Linked DNA regions of Homo sapiens. The protein of the gene in region 1 interacts with the protein of each later gene in a pairwise test. Each region holds a gene or a part of one and is shown in the gene's direction. Other genes may lie near its edges.

Region 1 (3,500 bases):
ACCTCAGCCTTCTGAGTAGCTAGGACTAAGGGCACCTGCCACTATGCCTGGCTAATTTCTAAAGTTTTTTTTATAGAGGCAGAGTCTCGCTGTTTTGCCCAAGCTGTTCTCAAATTTCTAGGCTCGTGTGATCCTCCTGCCTCAGCCTCCCAAAGTGCTGGGATTATAGGTGTGAGCCACCACACCTGGCTGATCTATCTGTCTTAAACTGGAGAATTGCATTTTTTTCTACCTCCTTTCTTTTTTTTAAAAAAACTGAATTTCCATCTGTTACCCCTCCCTTTCTGCTCCTCTTATTTCATGCCTTGGAAGTTATACTTTGCCTTCCTTTAATGAGTACCAAAGAAATTAAAAAATACATGTTTACTGTAAGTCCAGGCCTAAATGTTGCTACTACAGGGACCATCAAATGCTTTACTACCATCTATTGCCATCTGCAAATGTATGCCATTGTTGTTTAGTTTTGTAGTTCTTAATGTATTTTAATTAAACACCACAAATTATGCTTTTTGTTTGTTTTATTCAGTCAGTAGATGCTTAGAATACTTGCTTATTTTACCAATTCCTTTGCTTATTCCACTCCTTTGTTCTGGGATTATTTTTCTTTTTCCTAATATATTTTCATTAAAAGTTTATTTGGTGAGAATCTAAAAACTCTCAAATTCTGAAAGTTTTAAAAATTTGCCTTTGTTGTTGAAAATTAGTTTTGATGGGTGAGAGAATCTAGATCAGGTGTTAGCAAACCTTTTTTTGTAAAGGGCCAGATAGTAAATATTGTGGGCTTTGTGGGCCATAGAGTCTCTCTGACAACTACTCAGCAATGCTGTTGTAGGACAAAAGCAACCATAGACATTATGTAAACATGAGTGTGGGTATGTTCTCACAAATTTTGTTTATAGACACTGAAATTTGACTCAATTTTCATGTGTTAAAAATTATTATTTTTTGAATTTTTTTAACCATATAAAAATGTAAAAATCATTCGTAGCTTGTAGACCAAATAAACAGGATGGATTTGACCTGTGGGCCATAGTTTGCTGACCTCTGGTCTAAATTAACATTCATTTTACTTAGTACCTGACACTGGAGTAATTATTCTTATGATGTCTTATTGTGATATTGTCTTCCATTTTTAATTGTTGAAGAGCCAGCTGTCAGTCTTTTTTGTTTTTCTTTTTCTTCTTCTTTTTTTTTTGAAATGGAGTTTTGCTCTTATCGCCCAAGCTGGAGTGCAGTGGTGTGATCTTGGCCCACTGCAACCTCTGCCTTCTGGGTTCAAGCGATTTTCCTGCCTCAGCCTCCCAAGTAGCTGGGATTACAGGTGCCTGCCACCACACCCAGCTAATTTTTGTATTTTTAGTAGAGATGGGGCTTCACCATGTTGGCCAGGCTGGTGTTGAACTCCTAACCTCAGGTGATCCACCTGCCTTGGCCTCCCAAAGTGCTGCAATTACAGGCATGAGGCACGGCGTCTGGCCTTTCTTTCCTTTTTTTTTTTTTTTGAGACGTAGTCTTGCTCTGTTGCCCAGGCCGGGGGGCGATGGTACGATCTTGGCTCATTGCAACCTCTGCTTCCCAAGTTCAAGCCATTCTCCTGCCTCAGCCTCCCAAGTAGCTGGGACTATAGGCACGTGCCACCATGCCGAGCTAATTTTTGTATATTTAGTAGAGACGGGGTTTCACCATGTTGTCCAGGCTGGTCTTGAACTCCTGACCTCAAGTGATCCTCTCGCCTTGGCCTCTCAAATAACTGTCCTTTCTTTGTTGGTAATCTGGTGATATGTTTTCTTGTTTGGCTGCTTTTAAGAGCTGCTTCTTGTCTCTGGTGCAGTTCGCTATGATGTATCTAAGTATGTATTTATTTTCATTTAACCTGGTCAGGATTTGTTGAGTATCCAGAAACTAAGGATTGGTGTTTCTCATTACATCTGGAAAAATTTGAGCCATTATTTTTGCTTATATTGTGGTATGTCATAGGAAGTTGAGAAAAGAAAAATTCATTTGATGGTTTTCTATGAGGTTATAGTGGAAAATAACTATCTCCCTTTTAGAATTGAGTGCTAGACAGTTTCTGTGTAGATGATCTCATAAGCTTCCTTTTATCAAACAGCGATCACTTTTTTGGTTTGGCTGCTGAGAAGTATGGCATCAAGTATAATACTCATATGAGGTGTTTAAGAACTGAGTATATTTCTTATGCACATTTTACTATATACTATAATTATACATTAAAAATGCACATTGTAAATATTATAAATATGTGTTATACATTGTTAATAGTTTGGATAGCAAAAGTATGACTTGACATTTGTTTTTTAAACCATATTTAAAGTAACTCTATCACAATATGGATTTAATGGATTAATTGCATAATTGGTGAGCTACTGATTATTCTTGTTATTTGGATGCTTCTTTAAGTTAGCAAGTTTATATTGTGGTGCTTCAATATAGACTACTTATTTCATTTCAGAGAACTCAATTTCCTGTATCTACTGAGTCTCAAAAACCCCGGCAGAAAAAAGGTCTGTATGCAGTTTCATGGTATGTGTATGTTTGCACAGACAGATTTCTCTTTTATTTATTTATTTATTTTTTTTTTTGGAGGCAGAGTCTCACTGTCACCCAGGCTGGAGTGCAGTAGCACAATCTTGGCTCACTGCAACCTTTGCCTCTGGGGCTCAAGCAATTCTCCTGCCTCAGCCTCCCGAGTAGCTGGGATTACAGGTGCACGCCACCACACCTGGCTAACTTTTGTGTTTTAGTAGAGATGAGGTTTCACTGTGTTTGCCAGGCTGGTCTCGAACTCCTGACCTCAGGTGATCTGCCCACCTTGGCCTCCCAAAGTGTTGGGATTACAGGCGTGAGCCGCCACGCCTGGCCAGATTTCTCTCTCTTGTTGATTCTTTTATCTATTCTATATTATTTCAAAATGAGTGTTGGGAAAAGAAGTAATAGTCTAAATGTTCTGTCACATCTAGCTTTTATTTAATAGAGTTATTAGATATTAGGAGGTTGGTTTGACCTGGAAATTATTTAAATGGGGTTTGATTATTATGTAAGTGTGTACTAATTTTCTGCTTCTGGAAAAACCACTTTGTGAAGTTCCAGGTATCTTTTTGCTTTGTTGGTTTCTAGTTTAATTCTATTGTGGGTAGAGAACATTCTTTATATGGTTTGTTTTATGGCCCACAATGTGGCCTGTGTTGGTGCATGTCCCATGTACACTTGGAAATAATGTGTATTCTGCTCTTGTAGGATGTAGCATTCTGTAAATGTCAATTAGGTCAAGTTGGTTGATAGTGTTCTGTATATACTTACAATTACAGATATTCATATTCTTACTGATGTAGTTACTGATTGGAAGGGTGATAGAAGAGTGTTGAAGTGTGCAAATGTAATTGTGGATTTGTTTCTACTTTCAGTTCTATCAATTTTTGATTTGTGTATTTTGAAGATCTGTTGTTGGATGCATATACATTTAGGATTGTCTGATTTCTTGG
Region 2 (2,571 bases), on another chromosome or scaffold:
TGAGGACTAAATTAGTTAATATACAATGTAAAGCCAGGCACCATGGTGCACATCTGTAGTTCCAGCTACTCAGGAGGCTGAGGCAGAAAGATCAGTTGAGGCCAGAAGTTGGAAGCTGCAGTGAGCTATGATTGTACCTGTGAATAGCCACTGCAGTCCAGCCTGGGTAACCCAGCAAGACCCTGCCTCTAAAACAACAACAACAACAACAACACAACAAAAAAAACCTGTAACATATACAGTGTACTTAGAATTGTGCTGAATTAAAAATTCCATTCTGCAGTTGCAGTAGTCACATTTCAGATTGCCACATGTGGCCAATGACTACTGTATTCCTATCATTGCAAAGTTCTATTGGACAGTCCAGGCTTAGAAGGATGTCTGGAACATAGTGTTTGATAAATATTAGCTGTGGTAATAAATGTTATTAAGAGAACAGGACTAGGAACAAGTGACAAGCTCTGGACATTCGAGAGTGGGGTACTTGGGGAGTGGGGTTGGAAGTTGTGTGCATTGCGCTCGCTGAAGAGACAGCCTGAAAGAATGGGATGAATGGGCAGCAAGCCTGGTAGAGAAGGCCAGGTAGAGGTTCCAGGCAGAGGAGTGGCACCCAGGAAGCCTAGTGAGAAGAGGATGAGCTGGGGACGGAGAGGTGGTGGGCCTGTGCTGGGCGCCCCCTAGGGGAGTCAGGGGCAGTTGAGAAAGGTTAGGGAGATGGCCTTAAGGGCCATGTGCCTCTGTCCTCCTGAGCCTCTCTCTTTCTCTCTCCATTGTAGGAGCTGAAAGGGCCATTACTCTGAAGATGGAGATTCCAGGCCCGATGCCTCCCTTAATCCGAGAGATGCTGGAGAACCCTGAAATGTTTGAGGATGACTCCTCGCAGCCTGGTCCCCACCCCAATGCCTCTAGCGAGGATGAGGTTCCTGGGGGCCAGGGCAAAGGGGGCCTGAAGTCCCCAGCCTGACCAGGGCCCCTGACCTCCCCGCTGTGGGGGTTGGGGCTTCAGGCAGCAGACTGACCATCTCCCAGACCGCCAGTGACTGGGGGAGGACCTGCTCTGCCCTCTCCCCACCCCTTCCAATGAGCTCCTTGTTTTTGCCAAAGTTTCTAGGGGTGCCTCTGTGTTCATCCCCTTCCTGATCTAACCGGCTCCCTCGCCAGTCCCGGGGGCCTGCCCTGCTCCCACCAGGAGAGAGGGCAAAGGGATGAGCCTGGGTTTGGACTCTAAAATCTCAGCACTGCCCCATGGGTCCTAGACTTCCCAGGGCAAGAGGAAGACCCTGCCATTCCACAGCCCCTTCCTCTGCCAGGTGCTTGGCTCTCTGAGAGCAAACAGGAACACTAGAGACCAAAAAGGGGACAAAGGAGAAGGGCTGAGCCCACCTTCTTGCTCCTACCCTTGGTGCCTAATGCTGTGTGATGCACCTGCAGGGTGTGTGCTAGCCTCTGTGCCCCGTCCTTGTGCCAGGTCAAGGTGGGGGCAGGCTGGGCCCTGCATTTCTGGGGCAGGAACAGAGGGTGAAAGGGACAGATAGATGCAGGTCCATTCTGCACCTCTTGGCTCGGGTGCAGAGTTCACCCTGTGCCCTCCGTTATAAGTCCCTCCCCCAGCCCTGTCATGTGCCTTGGGCTCCTCCTGCCCTCCATCTCAGCCATTGGGGCAGGGACCCTCCTACACTACAGAGGGGCCAGGGGATCCCTCTCTCCCTAGTGCCTTCCACCCTTTACTCCCCAGAGCAGCTTGGCCCAGGGAGGGGGGATGCTGCTTAGCTGATCCCGCCCTGACCCAGAGGAAGCCTCTATTTATTTATTAGCTTTTGTTTACACCGTGGAATTGACCCCTTCCTCCAGGGGTCTTGGGTGGGGGAGCCCAGGGCCCCTGTGACCCCTCCTTTCTTCCTCCAATCCCCAGTTTGTATTTAGCTGCCAAATAAGATTCCCATTGGCTCCCTGTGTTCTCTTGGGGGGTCAGGGTGCTGTCCCCTCCCCTCTGTTTACATCTCCCCTCTACCCCGCTGTATCGCATATTGCTGAGTTTTCTATTTTTGCAAAATAAAGTGATGGAAACTCATGAGATGTGGCTCCCTTTAGGAGGTGGTAGGGAAATGACCAGCTGACCTGGTGAGGGAGCTGAGTGAGGAGGGAAAGCTTGTAATTGATTGGACTTTGCAGCTTTCTTGGTAGAAGAAAACAGGATGAAGTGTGCCTGGATTGTGGTGGGGACAGGATGGGGGAAAGGGAGCCCATGGGGACTCACCCTGAGTGACCGGGTTTCCCACAACCACCAGGTGTGGGTTCAGAATCTCACTCTGTCGCCCATGCTGGAGTGCAGTGGTGTGATCTCGGCTTACTGTAACCTCCACTTCCCAGGTTCAAGCAATTCTCTTGCCTCAGCCTCCCGAGTAGCTGCAATTACAGGGGTGCACCACCACGCCCAGCTAATTTTTTTTATTTTTAGTAGAGACAGGTTTCGCCATGTTGGCCAGGCTGGTCTCGAACTCCTGACCTCAGGTGATCCGCCTGCCTTGGACTCCCAAAGTGCTGGGATTACAGGCGTGAGCCACTGCGTCT
Region 3 (2,858 bases), on another chromosome or scaffold:
TTGTCATGATCTTTTATATTTACACACAATAATTGTATAGATCTGTGGGGTATCTGTGATTTTTTATATATGCATATAATGTATAATGATCAAATCAGGATAATTAGGGTATTCACTCCAAATATTTATTATTTCTTTGGGTTTGGAACATTCCAAATCTTCTCTTCCAGCTATTTTAAAATATGTAATAAATCATTGTTAACTATAGTCATCTTACTGTTGTATCAAACACTAGAACTTATTCCTTCTGCCTAACTGTATTTTTGTACCCATTACCAACCTCTTTTCATTTCCCCTACCCCCACTTGAAGCGCTTGTTAAAAATGCAGATTATGGGTCTCACCCACTGAGTTTCTAATTCAGTAGGTCAGGGGTAAGGCCAGGGAATTTCTATTTTTAACATGTTCCTAAGGGATGCTGGTAGACCATGAAACACAGTTGGAGAACCATTGATGTAAAATGTAGAAATAAGTCCTGGAGAGAACAGACAATAGCAACACTGACTGGAAGAAGTGGTACCACTGAGTGACATTCAAATATTGTCGTAAGTTTCATAATTCTGAATTTATCTTTAACTGGAATGTATACAGGAAAGCAAATGATACTACAATAACTAAATAAAAATTACATATTCTTCTAGACCAATATAGGTAGAAAATGGAAATGTTTTTAAAATAAACATGTTTTTCTTTTGGTATAGTGTACTATACTAGTGAGAAATTTTTCAACTTTAGTTTCTAGTACTGTTGCTGCAATATTGTTGGTACTGAACAGAGATTTCCCCAGTAACTGACACAAACCTCAAGCTTACCAAAGAAATGCTCAGAAAACTGGGATAAAAAGGGGAGATACTTTATAGAAGGGGATGGTATCCCCAGCAATATTCAGCAACATTGCTGTAAAAAGAAGAAAATCTGAGTGAAGGTTTGACTGGTTTCCCATGAGAGGCAGACAGGGTCAAGGTGGGGTCACATTTACTCTAACCAGTCTCCTCTCTCATATTTGTCTTCTAGGCTAACTGCCAGGCGGCCAAAGGACAGTATGTTCACACGGGTTCTTCTGGGGCTGCTTCCACCCAGTCGCTCTTCACAGCCTGCTATACCTACTAGGGTCCAATGCCCGCCAGCCTAGCTCCAGTGCTTCTAGTAGGAGGGCTGAAAGGGAGCAACTTTTCCTCCAATCCTGGAAATTCGACACAATTAGATTTGAACTGCTGGAAATACAACACATGTTAAATCTTAAGTACAAGGGGGAAAAAATAAATCAGTTATTGAAACATAAAAATGAATACCAAGGACCTGATCAAATTTCACACAGCAGTTTCCTTGCAACACTTTCAGCTCCCCATGCTCCAGAATACCCACCCAAGAAAATAATAGGCTTTAAAACAATATCGGCTCCTCATCCAAAGAACAACTGCTGATTGAAACACCTCATTAGCTGAGTGTAGAGAAGTGCATCTTATGAAACAGTCTTAGCAGTGGTAGGTTGGGAAGGAGATAGCTGCAACCAAAAAAGAAATAAATATTCTATAAACCTTCAGCTGCTATCGGGTTTCACTTTTCTGCTCTTGCTGTCCAAAGACTCAGTGTATTTCATTACTTTTGACTCTACTAGACATGACTGGGTTTCAACAGTAAAGGTCTTCAACTCTTGCTAGTCATTGGAATCAAGCCGCAAAATTTTAAAAACTGAGATGCTCAGGCCACACCCCAGCTCAATTAAATCAGAAACCCTAGACTTGGGATCCTCTAACTATTAGATTTCTTAAAGCTCCCTCAGTAATTCCAATGTACAGTCAAGTTTGAGAACTACCAATCTAAATTTCAAGTTTGAGGGTATTTGAAAATTAAAGCCATTCACAATACGAAGCCAGCTAAAAATGTAGAATGATTTTGAGCAACTTGTGGAGTATAATAAGAGAATTAATGTGACTTCAATGCTTGGAGCATTCTTGTTCAAGTGGCCCAGGTTTGGTGAAACAGGACTACCTTGTCATCTGCACGTCCAGGCATATTTCGTAGTTTTGCAGTAAATAATATTCACATAATGATACTGTATTGACTTTCAATTTTCAGAATTAACCTATAGTTACAGCACTTAAGACAACCAGAGTTATAAAAGAGAATTTAAATATTATAACTTTGGACAATATAAAAGTGATGATTTAACTGACAGAAGCTAGGAAATATAAGGGGGAGGAGAAGTGGAAGAAAGCAAAGAGAGTCAGGAATACTACTTAAAACTGATGGGTTAAGAAATAGTGCTTTAATTCTATTTAAGTAATAAAAGAAATGGATGTAAATCATAAAAATATATATCTAAAATTAAAATATTGATGGTAGTATGCTAAATTTCTTACCTTGAATAATACAAAGACAAATGGTATTGTGTAGATTAACAAATGAAGAAACAGAGACTTAACATATTATTTAGAGGAATAAGACAGAATTAGCCAAAGGGGCTTACTCTAAGACCTGGGAGAAAGACCTGGGAGTCAGGGCACAGGAAAGATGACATTTCCTTATTACCTGCCCTCTACAGTATTTGAATATTTATTTCCATGTACTTGTCATTACTTTTCTAAAAACAACTACAGACAGTCATACAAGCAACTCAAGCCTATATGAGAGATCTATTAAGCCCACGGTTTTCATTTTACAGGTGATAAAACCAAGTCCAGAGAAGTAAAATTACTTACTGAGGATCCCACATTTATAGCAGAGCTGAGAGATTAAAATTCAGGTCTTCTGAACTCAAGTCTCTTGCTCAAAAAGTGGATACACAGCCAGAGATCTTACAGGGCAAGGTGACAGGCTGTGTTCAATATCTCTGCCACCCGTGGTGTAGTCTTGTAC
Region 4 (3,500 bases), on another chromosome or scaffold:
GTTCTGAGGTGCCGCTTAATCTTCCCTGTCCCTGGCTGGCGTGTCCGTCCACCTACATGTCTGCCCTCAGTCTTGGAAGGACGGGAAGCCAAGTGCCCTGCACAGGGTAAATACTGGTATGATTCATTTTATTAATGCTTCTGAAAAATGACTGTGAAAACAAATTTATCCTCAAATGTTCCATCATCCTCAAACAGTTATTTGGATGACCTTCATGTTCTAGGAATGTATGTGGTCTTAATAGAAATTATATTTTGCATCAGGACAACACAAAAAACTGACAGTCTTATTTGTGCCAGTGCCGTCCTCAGAACTTTACATGGATTAACTTTTTAATCCTGTGAGATAAGCCCTGTTATTATCCCCACTTCATTGATGGGAAAGCTGAAGTCTAGAAGGGCTAACTGCCCAAGGTCGTATAGGTAGCATGGGCAGAGCTGCATTCAACCTGAGTAAAGGAGGTCCCCAGAGTCTATACTCTCAATGGGTGTTCCATACGCCCTTCCCTTACTGAAGATATCTATAAAGTATTTAATACTGCTTCTGACTCACAATAAGTGCTCTATAAATGACAACTGCCTTTGTTGTTTTCCTTGTAATTATAATTACTTTTCTTTTTTGTGATTTATCACTTGCATCAAACCTCACAAGCAGATAGGGATTGAAGATCTGAAAGGCCAACATGGAACTCCTTGAATTTCTTATTTTTCATGGGTTTTCCTAGACCCTGACAAGAGGTGGTTCTCTCCTGCCCCAAGAAATTCAAAGCTTTCCACATCCCACCCTTCGCTGGTGGCAAGACTTCAATAATTACTTCAGCCTTCGGACTCCATTGTGCAGGAGAACCTGTTAGAAGCTCTTCCTCTGTGGCTTCTGAAGAACCATCAAGATGCACAGGACTTCCTGTGGCTCTTTTGATCTTTTGAAATTGCAAGCACAGGAAGGAAAGAATGGATAGGGGGATAAAGAATAGCTATGATTGTTGTGATAATAGCATGTTGCATTTCTATAGAGCCCTTTCGCTGATGAGCCCTGAGCCTTAACAGCCATCACACTGTTGGCCCCTGCACTGTGAACCTAGAGGGTACCTTGAGTTTTTCTAGTGCTGCCAAACAGAATTGCATTGACACATACCTTAATCAAGAGAGAAGCAAGCCGTGTTGGCAACTGTGCATCACAGTCGATGTGGTGGTCATCCATGGGATGCCCCTAATAGCATCTGTAATTTTCAAGTAGATGTTGGGTGTAATTTGGTGACCCTTGTCTGTTCCCACTGTTGGAAGCCCCATAACTGATCTGATGAAAGCATAAAGTGAAGAAGAGTGGCGAGACCCTTTGTGAGATACCTGGAGCTGAAGAGTCAGGTGTGGAATGGACAAGAATGTTATCCACTTCTAAGTGACCTTGTTTTTTCTAATTTCTTAAGAAATACCTGTTTGCTTGACTGCCTTAGGCTGTTTGCAGGGGCCACTTGTACGTCAGCAAAACTCTTACTAGATGACATCACTGCCAGAAGTTCCACATGTTTCCAGGAGGCACATTTCCCACTGCCCCCACTCCCCCGAACTTGGAAAGATTCCTCAGTTTTAAAGTTATAAGTAATTTCCATGCCAGATAATGATCCTGTGAACAGATCCTTTTCTCATGTGGAAAAATATTTCAGAAAGGGTGTCTTGTCAATGAGAAAAATGACCCCATTGAAACATATGTTTATTTGCCATGTACTCATCTGACGTTTTGTGAATTCTATAAAGCCATGGAAGTGGATTGTTAGAAGTGTCTCATACACCCCTAGTGACTTCTTGAACTATCCCCCCATCCCCAGCCATGGAACTCTCCTATTAAAAAAACTAAGAGATAAGTGGTAGCAATCTTAACAAATTAGTGATTTTATCTGGTTAGGCCGTGTAATCAAACACGTGGGCAGGAAAGTGGATCCATTATGTTGTACTCATGATTGTGGTGCTGAAGGTAACCCCCATTGCCCTGTAGGCTGCCCCCAGAAGCAGGGGGTACAGCCAATAGTATTCTTAGAAGTTAATCAATTCTGTAACGGGTTGAGTGTTTTGGTCTCATTTTTAGTCCGAGGTGCCCTGATGCTGGCCTGTGACTAAGGGGAGTCAGTGGCTTGTTATGAATAAGAGGACACATGAGCTGAATCTGAGAAAGTTCAGAAGCATTTTATAAGTTGTTTAAAATACATCCATTAAAGTATATGATTATTTTTTGGTAATCATTTAAATCATTGTGCTGTGTGTCTACCCAGACAGTATTTATCTGTCTCTCGATGTTGTATTAGTATAGTATTAAAAAAATACACACATTTCACTTTTGATAAAAACTTTGCATACTGTCACTACTTTGTATAAGTTTTTTCCTGACTGCCTCTGGTTAGGGGGCAGGGAGCAAGAAGACCAGCATGCTTTCCTTCCTTTATATTTGGGAAATGGAGGTGCTGAGAGAAACAAGCCACACTGTCTGAAGTAAAACCTAGAAGTGGACCTGGTTGTCCATGGTGAGGGAAAGCCCATATGTACCACCTTGGGCTCCAGTTACAAGGTAATGAGCCATGAGCACAAAAGGGTGACTCAAAATTCAATGCCAGCCATTCTCATTACTAATGAGCAATTACAGCAAATATTTACAGGCCTCCTTCCTACCTTTATGACTTCCTGTTACTGAAGCACTTTGGAGTATTGAGAAAGATTGTCCTGGAAAAATACGTCACACACAGTTGCAGGAAAGAGTGCCTTTAAGCACACATAAAAACTCGGTTACTTGGCTTTGTTTATGAATTCCACATAGAAACAACAGAAAATTGTGCCTTTTGAGGAACTGCTTGAGAATCCTTCCTTCTGCATTTCAAGACAAGATTTTAAAAATCACATATATCAAATATATGGGGAAATGAGACACAATGTTTTTAGAGAGTGTCTAGAAATAATAGGACTGTGCAAGTTAGTACAGCAAAATTTTGGGTCAAAGCATGGGTCATTTGACAAACTCTCTTTATGAACATTACCTCTGCAATATTTTTCTAAATGAAAACAATCACACTTAATAGAATTAATCAGGATGGGAGCTAGAAGCATATAATTCACTTTCCACAGATTGGAGTAAATCCTCATAATGCCCCTTTCCTGTGTATTTAGTTAAAAAAGCACTCCAGTGAGATTGCTTTCGCAGTAAGTTTCTGTAAACCACTGTACCCTTGTATTTCTCTCCTGTGTTTCCAAGAGTTCTCAGATGCTATTTTCGAATGGCAGCGTTCACTCCAGAGCTGGCTGAGGTCAACGAAGCTAATTTTGGTGCCTTGGTGCCCAGGGTGAAGGGAGAGAGAAGTCCTCTGCAGAGCCAAAAGGACTCTCTGGGGCCTGGGTTTGGAGCAGTGTGGTGTTGCTGGACACACCACATTTCACCTTTAGAACCTTTATTTGTGTGCTTGCACAACAAATGTTTACCCAGATATTAAGATAAGGAAAGTATGAAGGTCACATTTC
Region 5 (3,500 bases), on another chromosome or scaffold:
AAACACTCCTTTCCCCGGTCCCTGACAGTCTCCTAAATCCATACCTCTGTGTGCCTGCTGATGCAGGGGCATTGCCCCTGGACGCTCCTCTTTCACCTCAAATGCTGCACATCTAGGACCAACATCACCACTTCCCTCCAAAACCAGTCACCTCCCTATAGCCTTATTCCTGACCTGCTGATGTAAACTCCACCAAGCTTCCAGTTACACAAATCTGAGTTTGTAAAACCATGGTTGACTCCAGTTGGTTGCCAAACTCTGACCATTCTGCCTTCCTCTTGTCTTGCAAATTCTTCCCTTTCTTTCCTGAGACCAGCTCCCTATCGCCTCATGCCTCATGTATATGTATGTTGCTTTACTGGGATCTGTTTGTAGAGATCCCCCCTAGTTTAGAAATCACTCATGGCTTAAGGCCCTCTAAACCTGGTTCCTACATGTTGGGGGCAGGATGACAAAGTAACAAAAAGCATAGATTTTAGAGGCTGCATTCTGAGTCTTCCCTAATTGGTACTGTGATTTTTTTTTTTTTTTTTTTTTTGAGACGGAGTCTTACTCTGTCGCCTAGGCTGGAGTGCAGAGGCACAATCTCAGCTCACTGCAACCTCCGCCTCCTGGGTTCAAGCGATTCTCCTGCCTCAGCCTCCTGAGTAGCTGGGATTACAGGTGCATACCACCACACCTGGCTAATTTTGTATTTTTAGTAGAGTTGGGGTTTCACCATGTTGGTCAGGTTGGTCTCAAACTCCTGACCTCGTGATCTGCCTGCGTCGGCCTCCCAAAGTGCTGAGATTACAGGCATGAGCCACCGCATCTGGCCTTTTTTTTTTTTTTGAGATGGAGTCTCACTCTATTGCCCAGACTGGAGTACAGTGGCTTGATCTTGGCTCACTGCAACCTCCGCCTCCCGGGTTCAAGCAATTCTCCTGCCTCAGCTGCCTGAATAGCTAAGATTACAGGTATCTGCCACCATGCCTGGCTAATTTTTGTACTTTTAGTAGAGTCGAGATTTCACCGTGTTGGCCAGGCTGGTCTCAAACTCCTGACCTCAGGTGGTCCACCCGCCTTGGCCTCCCAAAGTGCTGGGATTACAGGCGTGAGCCACTGCACCCAGCCAGTAGTGTGATCTTGAGTGAGCTACTTAAACTTGTCTCAGCTTTGGTTTTCAATTTGCAAAATGAGGATAATAGTCTCTACTTTGGAGGTGGTTGTGCGAATTAACAGTAATATATATGTCATATAAATTGTGTATAATATTGGCACATAGTAGATGTTCAGTAAGTGGAAAATGGTGATGGTTCTCATCACATCCAAGTTTTCATTCTTGTTTCCTCTTAGTCCCTTGCCTGTCTCCACTCATTCTGGCTGACCACTCTGGGCATTAACCCAGAAGGCAGCAGGCTCGCGTGGCTTCCGCTTCCACCAGCTTGTGATGCCCTCCCCTCTACTTCTTTGTTCATCTTAGGATCAAGTTATTTTTTACTGGGGAAAGAGACAGTGGAGATCCTGTAGTCCAACCCCTTCATTTAAAGCTGAAGAAACTGAGGCCCAGAGAAGTTGAGAGGTGAGACCAAGGCTATGTGGCTTCTTAAATGCAAAATCAGAAGCAGGACTCAGGGCCCCTGCCATGCAGCCCAGTGTCCTTTCCGCCATCCTCTGTGCCTCTGATTTCAGCCCTACTTGGCTTTGAAGATCTACATCAATTTCCCTCTGTTCAGCGACTTCTTCCGCAGTTCCCTCTCCTGCAAGGGGAATGGTTCCTCTCCTCCAAGTTTCCAGCACTAACTACCTGATTCCCTCGGGTAACTGAGCTTTTTTGGGGATTAAGTCTCCCCTCCCCACCTTCATATCCAGCACTGTGAGCTAGGGGCCTTATCCCAACTGCCTGCAAGTGTTCAGGAAAAGCTTTTAGAGCTGACTTGCTCATGGCTTGTGACTCACCTGGCTGGTTGAGGTGAGCTTGGCTCACATGCCTCTCTGTGGGGACAAGGAACGCTATCAGAAAAGTGGCTTCCAAAGGCCCCTCATTTGACCAGTGGGTAGGGGGAGCATTCCTCCGTCTTGGCCCTGGGACTGGTCTTTGGCATCATTGAGCCCTCGGTTTTTCAGATCCCTGAAAAGCAGGCTCCTGGAATGTTTGATTTGGCCCCTTCTCCCCAGGATGTACAGGGAGGGCACCAGACCTTTCAACCAGGCTGGCAAAGACGCTGCAATCCAAGTAAGAACCTCAGAAAAGGAGGCCAGCAAACCAGCCAGCCATATAGGAACAGGGCTCTGACTTGTTTGAGGGCAGTAAGTGGGCTCAAGAAGAGATTGTTCAGCCTGACATCTGGCAAAGGGACTGTGTGCTGTGTTGGAGTCCTGGGGACAAAAGAAAGGGTCACCTGTGACCCAGCCCCTCCCTGGCTACTTCTCATTCTTTCAGGATATGGGGAAATCTCATCCTCTCAACTCTGAAGGACTGTGACACAGTCCCAAGTAGGAAAGCCAGCTCCAAAATGATCTCAAAACCCAGGAGGTCCTGGTACCAGGAAGAGATGCGTGTGTGGTTGAGGAGAGAAAGGTGGACAACAAGCCACTAGGGCAGTCCTCACCCTGCAGAAAAAGAAAGGATGCTGTGCTCACTGGGTCTCTGCCCTGATCTTTGCTACCAAAAATCAAACAATAATTTGGGTGATGCACATAGCAGGACATAAGGCAGGCTGCATTCACCCAGAGCTGCATTACGTTGGATCTGCGGAGCCAACAGAAGGAAAACCCTGTGCCTTGCAGCAGTCAGTGAGGGCAGGGACACAGGGAGCAGATGGATGAGGAAATCGCTGAGGAACTTGGGAGAGAGCCCCTTTGCAGGGCTGGGCTGGAATTGGCCGGGATAGGAGTGGGCATTTGATGTGTGATGCTGTTGTGACGCTGTTGCAGAATCATCCGGACCAAAGTTCAGCAGCCTTTCCACCCAACGCCGGATGGGGCTGGGACAGGAGTGACCGCCCCTGGCCACACCATTGGTAAGAGGGCTCAGGGAAGGGGAGGAAACCAGATCCCACCTAGAGAAAGGCAGGAAACGCAGCTCCACCCCTGGGAACTGCCTGCCCGCTTGAGGTCCAGAGCCCAACCTATTTGCCAACTCCTCTCACCTGAGCTCCTGTCCACATAGGGTCTTCCTGAGAGATACTGGTTCTCTAGGACTGTTCTCTGCCTCCCACTTGTGTCACCTCCCTCTGCCCTGCTTTAGTCAGTCCCTATCCTCTCCCCTCCTCTCCTCTCTCTTAAGTGTTTTTCTTCTAGCATTTCTTCTTCTTTTTCTTCTTCTCCTCCTCCTGCTTCCCTCTCCCTCATTCTCCAACATCTTTTGTTTTTATCTGATTCTGTCTCCCTACCTGTGCCCTCTTTCTTTTATATCAACTTTCTTATTCCATCTTTGTTTAACATTCCATCTTGTTCTTAACATTGTCCTCTGTCTTCTCCCCTTGGCTCCTCTTCTTTTCTCCCTCTGCCCTTCCCTC
Region 6 (3,500 bases), on another chromosome or scaffold:
TACTACTGCACCCTCTCAAAAAAAAAAAAAAAAAGTCCAGGGACCCAATAGTATTTAGCCTCAGAGCACAAGTATAATTTTCTCTGTGAATATTACTTGCCTCAACTGCATTTTTTAAATTGTGATTTTCTAGCTTTTTTCTGTGAATTTCAAGGATTTGATGATGGTAGCTTTTAGTTAAGAGTCATTTTCTGTTTTGTTTTTTTTTCCTCTCCAGAGTATCTTAAGAGGCCAGGCATGGTGGCTCACGCCTGTAATCCCAGCACTTTGGGAGGCCGAGGCGGGTGGATCACGAGGTCAGGAGTTCAAGACCAGCCTGGTCAAGATGGTGAAACCCCGCCTCTACCAAAAATACAAAAAAATTAGCCGGGCATGGTGGCGGGTGCCTGTAATCCCAGCTACTCGGGAGGCTGAGGCAGAGAATTGCTTCCCCAGGAGGCAGAGGTTGCAGTGAGCTGAGATCACACCACTGCACTCCAGCCTGGGCGACAGAGTGAGACTTCATCTCAAAAAAAAAAAAGTATCTTACAATCTAGAAAATTTTATAATTGAATAGAATCTTTACAAACATCTAGTTCAACCTCTGAGTGGAGGAATGACTACCCCAAGATCACACCAAGGTCACATAGTTTTGGGTAGCATGAGTGGAAATCCCATTCCAGCATTTCTGTTTCAGTCCAAGCTTTTGATACCCCTTAGTCTTTCATTATCGGGACAGTTGCAGTTTTCTCTATTAGTGGTATTATTTCCTAATGGATGAGTAGGATTTACATTACTCTGCCCATAGCTTCTTCAACTTATTTTTCTTGCTTTCTACCCCAATAGCTAAAGCTCCATGGAATAGAGATTCCTGAAAGGACAGATTATGAAATGGACAGGCAATTCCTCATAGAAATAATGGAAATCAATGAAAAACTCGCAGAAGCTGAAAGTGAAGCTGCCATGAAAGAGATTGAATCCATTGTCAAAGGTGAAAGATAAAATAGCACTGAATGTATTTCATTGCTGTTATGAACACTTGTCCAAGGATTAGTGAAAAATGAACGTAGAGTATATAATGGCCCGGGTGCAGTGGCTCACGCCTATAATCCCAGCACTTTGGGAGGCCAAGGCAAGTGGATCACCTGAGGTCAGGAGTTCAAGATCAGCCTGGCCAACATGGTAAAACCCTGTCTCTACTGAAAATACAAAAATTAGCCGGGCGTGGTGGCGGGTGCCTGTAGTCCCAGCTACTCGGGAGGCTGAGGCAGGAGAATGGCGTGAACCCGAGAGGCAGAGATTGCAGTAAGCGGAGATCAGGCCACTGCACTCCAGCCTGGGCGACAGAGCGAGACTCCATCTCAAAAAAAAAAAAAAAAAAAAAAGGTTATTTATTTTAAGGAATTAGCTCACATAATTGTGGGAGCTGACACATCTAAAATCTATAGGGTAGGGCTGGGCACAGTGGCTCATGCCTGTAATCCCAGTATTTTGAGAGGCCGAGGAAGGCAGATCACTTGAGTCCAGGAGTTCGAGACCAGCCTGGGCAACGTGGCGAAACCCCATCTCTAAAAAAATACAAAAAAATCAGCCAAGCGTAGGCCAGGTGTGGTGGCTCACGCCTGTAATCCCAGCACTTTGGGAGGCCAAGGCGGGTGGGTCACCTGAGGTTGGGAGTTCGAGACCAGCCAGGCCAACATGGAGAAACCCCGTCTCTGCCTAAAATACAAAATTAGCCAGGCATGGTGGTGCATGCCTGTAATCCCAACTACTCGGGAAGCTGAAGCAGGAGAATCGCTTGAGCTTGGGAGGCGGAGCTTGCAGTGAGCCCAGATCGTGCCACTGCATTATAGCCTGGACGACAGAGTGAGACTCCGTCTCAAAAAAAAAAAAAAAATCAGCCAAGCGTGGAGGTGCGCACTTGTGGTCCCAGCTATTCAGGAGGATGAGGTGGGAGAATCATCTGAGCCCAGGAGGCAGAGGTTGCAGTGAGCTGAGATCACACCACTGTACTCCAGCCTGAGTGACAGAGTGAGACCCTGTCACAAAAAAAATAAACAAAATCTATAGGGGTAGATAAGCAGGCTGAAAGTCCAGGCAGGATTTCTATGTTACAGTCTTGATACAGAATTCCTTCCCAGAAAACCTGTTTTTGCACTTAATGCCTCTACTTGATTGGATGAGGCCCACCCACATTATATAGAGTAACATCTGTTACTTAAAGTCAACTGATTATAAATGTTAATCACATCTACGAATACTTTCACAGGATCATCTAAACTAGTTGGTTTTTGTTTTTTTTGAGACATGGTCTCACTCTGTCACCCAGGCTGGAGCGCAGTGTTGCAATCACAGCTCACTGCAGCCTTGACCCATGGGCTCAAACAGTCCTCTCACCTTAGCCTCTTGGATAGCTGGGACTACAGGCATGCATCACCATGCCTGGCTAATTTTTTCTGTCTTTTATACAGATGGGGTTTCACCATGTTGCCCAGGCTGGCTTCAAACTCCTAGGTTCAAAGCAATCCACCTTCCTCAGTCTCCCAAAGTGCTGGGATTACAGGTGTGACTCAATGTGCCTGGCATAGATTAGTGTTTGATCAAGCAACTGGGCACCATAGCCTAGCCAAGTTGACGCATAAAATTAACCATTCCACATAGAAAAGATTCCAAGGTTCTCCGTTAGACTATATTCAGTTATGTACTTTCACAAATATTTGTAGTGTACCTACAAATATCAAGCACTGTGCATGACACTGAGGATACAGCACGGAACAAGAAAGACTGTGCCTTCTTGGAGTTTATATATGTCAACTGTACCCAAAATGGAATTCCCAAGTGTCTCCCCTCCCCACCTTTCCCCCCCAAAAAAATCTGTTCCTCTTAGGCTGGGTGCAGTGGCTCACGCCTGTAATCCCAGCACTTTGGGAGGCCGAGGCAGGCAGATCACGAGGTCAGGAGATCAAGACCATCCTGGGTAACATGATGAAACCCTGTCTCTACTAAAAATATAAAAAATTAGCCGGGCGTGTTAGCACACGCCTGTAGTGCCAGCTACTCGGGAGGCTGAGGCGGGAGAATCGCTTGAACCCGGGAGGCGGAGGTTGCAGTGAGCCGAGATTGTGCCACTGCACTCCAGCCTGAGTGACAGAGCGAGACTCCGAATAAAAAATAATAATAATCTGTTCCTCTTCCAGTGTTCCCTGAGAGAGTGACACCACTTGCACAAGCGTAAATTCTGAGGAGGCCTTAACAACCTTCTTCTTCCTTATGCCCATAGTCAATCTATTACATCTGAAAGAGCTGACTTAAATTTGCCTCAAATTCATCCACCCATCTCTACTTTCACTGCCACCAGCCTTTTCCAAGCTACCATTCACTCTCACCTGGACAACTGCAGTAGCTTTTCACTGGTCTGTCCGTACCTTCAGGCCCCATCTAACAAATCCCTTCACTGTCACTGGAATCTTTTTGAAACCCAAGCGTTTTTTTTTGTTGTTTTGTTTTGTTTTTGAGACAGA
Region 7 (3,500 bases), on another chromosome or scaffold:
TATATGTACTGTATATAAAATGTTCCTAGATTCATATATTCCATGCATAAGTGTGAGCCACTGTGCAGGGTTAAAGGATTTATTCATGATTAATGACTAGATAATGGGTGGCAAATGGTGGAGGACAGGAATATAAAAGGAAAGATTGTTTTTTGGATATGAAGGGCTTGAAAACGTTGCAAGGTATAAATACCTCAAAATTGGGACTCAGAGAAAACTCTTGAAGTTTCTGCTTAAATGAGTGATCTGTGTAACATCAGAACAGATACTATGCTGAAATCTGCGTGCAATAGGAAAAATTCTAAAATTTTCAGTGATACTTTTGTTTTATGGAACACTTAACACAGATCATTTAAGGTTTTTGGTATTTTTTTTTCTTTTCCTGTTTGTTTTTTGAGACAGTCTCATTCTGTCATCCAGGCTGGAGTACAGTGGCACTATCTTGGCTCACTGCAGCCTCTGCCTCCCAGGTTCAAGCAGTTCTCATGCCTCAGCCTCCTAAGTCAAGTAGCTAGGACTACAGGCGCACCACCACACCTGGCTAATTGTAGTTTTAGTAGCAACAGGGTTATTACCATGTTGGCCAGGCTGGTCTCGAATTCCTGACCTTAAGTGATCCACCTGGCTCGGTCTCCAAAAGTGCTGGGATTACAGGTGTGAGCCACCATGCCCGGCCCATTTTAAGTTTCTCATATAAGTTTAAGATACTGTTAATGATGTCTGTGCAGTGATGTACACAGCTTTAGTATTTTTTTAATCAGTGTCTTAAATTAGCATTTAGAATGATGATGAATTAATGCCAACGTCTATTCATGATTGCCAATCTGTTTCTTCTTTTAAAAATATTTTAAAAATGTTTTGCTTTTTCAAAAAAACAGGTGGATGGAGAGAGAAAGAAAAAGCCAGAGAGGAGAGCTGGGGTCCACCTCGAGAATCAAGGCCATCAGAAGAACGTGAATGGGACAGAGAAAAAGAAAGGGACAGAGATAATCAAGATCGGGAGGAGAATGACAAGGACCCTGAGAGAGAAAGGGACAGAGAGAGAGATGTGGATCGAGAGGATCGCTTCAGAAGACCTAGGTGTGATGCTCTAATTAAATTATTTGTAGAGGCCGGGCGCAGTGGCTCATGCCTGTAATCCCAGCACTTTGGGAGGGCGGATCACCTGAGTTCAGGAGTTCGAGAGCAGCCTGGCCAACATAGTGAAACCCCATCTCTACTAAAAAATACAAAATTAGCCGGGCGTGGTGGCGCATGCCTGTAATCCCAGCTACTCAGGAGGCTGAGGCAGGAGAATTGCTTGAACCCGGGAGGCAGAGGTTGTGGTGAGCCGAGATAGCGCCATTGCACTCCAGCCTGGGCAACAAGAGCAAAACTCCGTCTCAAAAAAAAAAAAAAAAAAAAAAAAAATTCCCTCTTAAAGTAAGAAAATGGAGGCCCAAACTTCGTGGCTGTCCAAAGGCTGTGTGACCCGTTGGGCATTGGAACCAGTCCAGCCATCTTTGTCAGTCCGTTGCTTTTACCCCTGTGGTTTAGGGCAGTCAGTTTTCTTGCCCTTAAATTATCAAAAGCCCTTTGATTTTATTAGTAGTAGAAGTTCTAGCTTGTTCCCGCTGCCAAAGTGTCCTTGTACTGACAAATGTAGACCAGCAGTGTTCGATGCAATTTTCTTCAAGGAAGAAAATGTGTCTGCTGGCCAGTATGGTAGTCAGCAGTCACATTTGGCAGCCAAGCACTTAGAATATATGGTTGATGGTCCTAAGGAAATATCTCCGTTTTACTTTAAATGTAAGTAACCACATATGGGTAGTGGCTAACGAGTGGGACGGCACAGATCTGGGTGTTCTCATTTGTTCTCCACGCCCCAGGCATCAGGTAAGGTCAGGTTATGAGTTTAAACTGTCTGTTATATTTGTAAACTCTAAGCCCCAGCTTGGACTGGATGTACTTATAATTATCCATTTGGTCTAACAGTAAGAACCTGACCTGTCATTGTAAATGGCTACAGGGATGAAGGTGGCTGGAGAAGAGGACCAGCTGAGGAATCTTCAAGCTGGAGAGACTCAAGTCGCCGGGACGATAGGGATAGGGATGACCGTCGCCGTGAGAGGGATGACCGGCGTGATCTAAGAGAAAGACGAGATCTAAGAGACGACAGGGACCGAAGAGGACCTCCACTCAGATCAGAACGTGAAGAAGGTATAGAGGTTACATACAACTGAAGTATTGGAGAACTGTCGTTTCTGGGGGGGGGGGGATTTGGGTTATTTAATTATATCATAAATTTGTATGAAGGCCAACAATAAGAGAGTTGATATTCTATTTAGAATTCATGATTTTCATACAGTTACTCAATGGTCATGTTGTAAAGTGCACTTATCTCTAAATTCAAAGTACAGTAGTAGACTAAATTGGATAGCAGGCAATATATATAAAGTTTACTTAATAAAAATGAAAAAAATTGTTATTTAAAAGCAGCTTCCTGGCAGATTAAGCACAAAGTAGAAACATTTTCTCTGAAATTGTAACAGAAGTTTATTCTGTTTTAAAATATATGTATTTTTCATTTTTAAAATCCTCATTTTTCTCTTGGTTTTTAAAAATTAATTTTCCATATGTCTTGACATCCTGTTATGAGAGAATTTTTCTCTCATAGCCATAACTTTAAAAACTCCTGTATTTTGTATGGTTAATTTGCTGTTAAAATTCTTCAAGAGCCAAAAATCCTTTCAGTTATAAAATTTTCATTCAGCCAGATTTTTGCCACCTTGTCTTACGGGTTTATACTAACTGTAGTCCTTCCCAGGCTAGTGGTTTCTGCCTGTTTTCAGATTTTGAGTTTTATCTGTACATTTGTATGTTAAAGATTGTCAGAAATTGTATGAGCTTTCATTATGATTTCTGTATTTAACAATACAGAATTTAACAGAATTTCTGTATTTAACAATGATTTCTGTATTTAACAATCTTTAGTACAGGAATTTTGAGTAATTTGAGCCAATAGAATATAGTACTAACTTAATTTTTTTTTTTTAATTAAACTTTTTAGTAAGTTCTTGGAGACGTGCTGATGACAGGAAAGATGACCGGGTGGAAGAGCGGGACCCTCCTCGTCGAGTTCCTCCCCCAGCTCTTTCAAGAGACCGAGAAAGAGACCGAGACCGAGAAAGAGAAGGTGAAAAAGAGAAGGCCTCATGGAGAGCTGAGAAAGATAGGGAATCTCTCCGTCGTACTAAAAATGAGACTGATGAAGATGGATGGACCACAGTACGACGTTAAGTCTCAAGATAATGGATTTAAACTGGTGTCTTAAATAGGTTTGATCACATTCAAGGATTATTATACTTGTGCTTCAACCAATCTAAATTGGATTCTTTAATGTTGTTTCACCATAACACAAAAAGCATGAACTTGTATTAATCCTATATAATAGATTGATCATGCACCATATCCACAGGAGGTTGGAAAAACCATGCCATTTTCTGGAATTTAAGGGTGTT

The links.
Region 2: the proteins of BBS4 (region 1) and RARG interact in a two-hybrid assay, tested with the Homo sapiens proteins (one large-scale study listed by BioGRID and IntAct).
Region 3: the proteins of BBS4 (region 1) and ALDOB interact in binary tests that used the Homo sapiens proteins (3 or more experiments, as listed by UniProt).
Region 4: the proteins of BBS4 (region 1) and EPAS1 interact in a two-hybrid assay, tested with the Homo sapiens proteins (one study listed by BioGRID and IntAct).
Region 5: the proteins of BBS4 (region 1) and PAX2 interact in a two-hybrid assay, tested with the Homo sapiens proteins (one study listed by BioGRID and IntAct).
Region 6: the proteins of BBS4 (region 1) and HSCB interact in a two-hybrid assay, tested with the Homo sapiens proteins (one study listed by BioGRID and IntAct).
Region 7: the proteins of BBS4 (region 1) and EIF3A interact in a two-hybrid assay, tested with the Homo sapiens proteins (one study listed by BioGRID and IntAct).

Annotation. Positions count from the first base shown.
Region 1 is NC_000015.10:72,692,707-72,696,206, forward strand, and holds part of BBS4 (BBSome complex member BBS4), read left to right. Parts: intron 1-2,470; coding exon 2,471-2,522; intron 2,523-3,500.
Region 2 is NC_000012.12:53,210,069-53,212,639, reverse strand, and holds the end of RARG (retinoic acid receptor gamma), read left to right. Parts: intron 1-776; coding exon 777-964; 3' UTR 965-2,071; downstream 2,072-2,571.
Region 3 is NC_000009.12:101,420,060-101,422,917, reverse strand, and holds the end of ALDOB (fructose-bisphosphate aldolase B), read left to right. Parts: intron 1-1,013; coding exon 1,014-1,109; 3' UTR 1,110-2,358; downstream 2,359-2,858. UniProt on the Homo sapiens protein: Catalyzes the aldol cleavage of fructose 1,6-biphosphate to form two triosephosphates dihydroxyacetone phosphate and D-glyceraldehyde 3-phosphate in glycolysis as well as the reverse stereospecific aldol addition reaction in gluconeogenesis.
Region 4 is NC_000002.12:46,303,907-46,307,406, forward strand, and holds part of EPAS1 (endothelial PAS domain-containing protein 1), read left to right. Parts: intron 1-3,500.
Region 5 is NC_000010.11:100,776,582-100,780,081, forward strand, and holds part of PAX2 (paired box protein Pax-2), read left to right. Parts: intron 1-2,916; coding exon 2,917-3,002; intron 3,003-3,500. UniProt on the Homo sapiens protein: Transcription factor that may have a role in kidney cell differentiation. Has a critical role in the development of the urogenital tract, the eyes, and the CNS.
Region 6 is NC_000022.11:28,745,039-28,748,538, forward strand, and holds part of HSCB (iron-sulfur cluster co-chaperone protein HscB isoform 1 precursor), read left to right. Parts: intron 1-825; coding exon 826-970; exon of another isoform or gene 971-1,011; intron 1,012-3,500.
Region 7 is NC_000010.11:119,035,818-119,039,317, reverse strand, and holds part of EIF3A (eukaryotic translation initiation factor 3 subunit A), read left to right. Parts: intron 1-878; coding exon 879-1,080; intron 1,081-2,008; coding exon 2,009-2,199; intron 2,200-3,049; coding exon 3,050-3,279; 3' UTR 3,280-3,500. UniProt on the Homo sapiens protein: RNA-binding component of the eukaryotic translation initiation factor 3 (eIF-3) complex, which is required for several steps in the initiation of protein synthesis.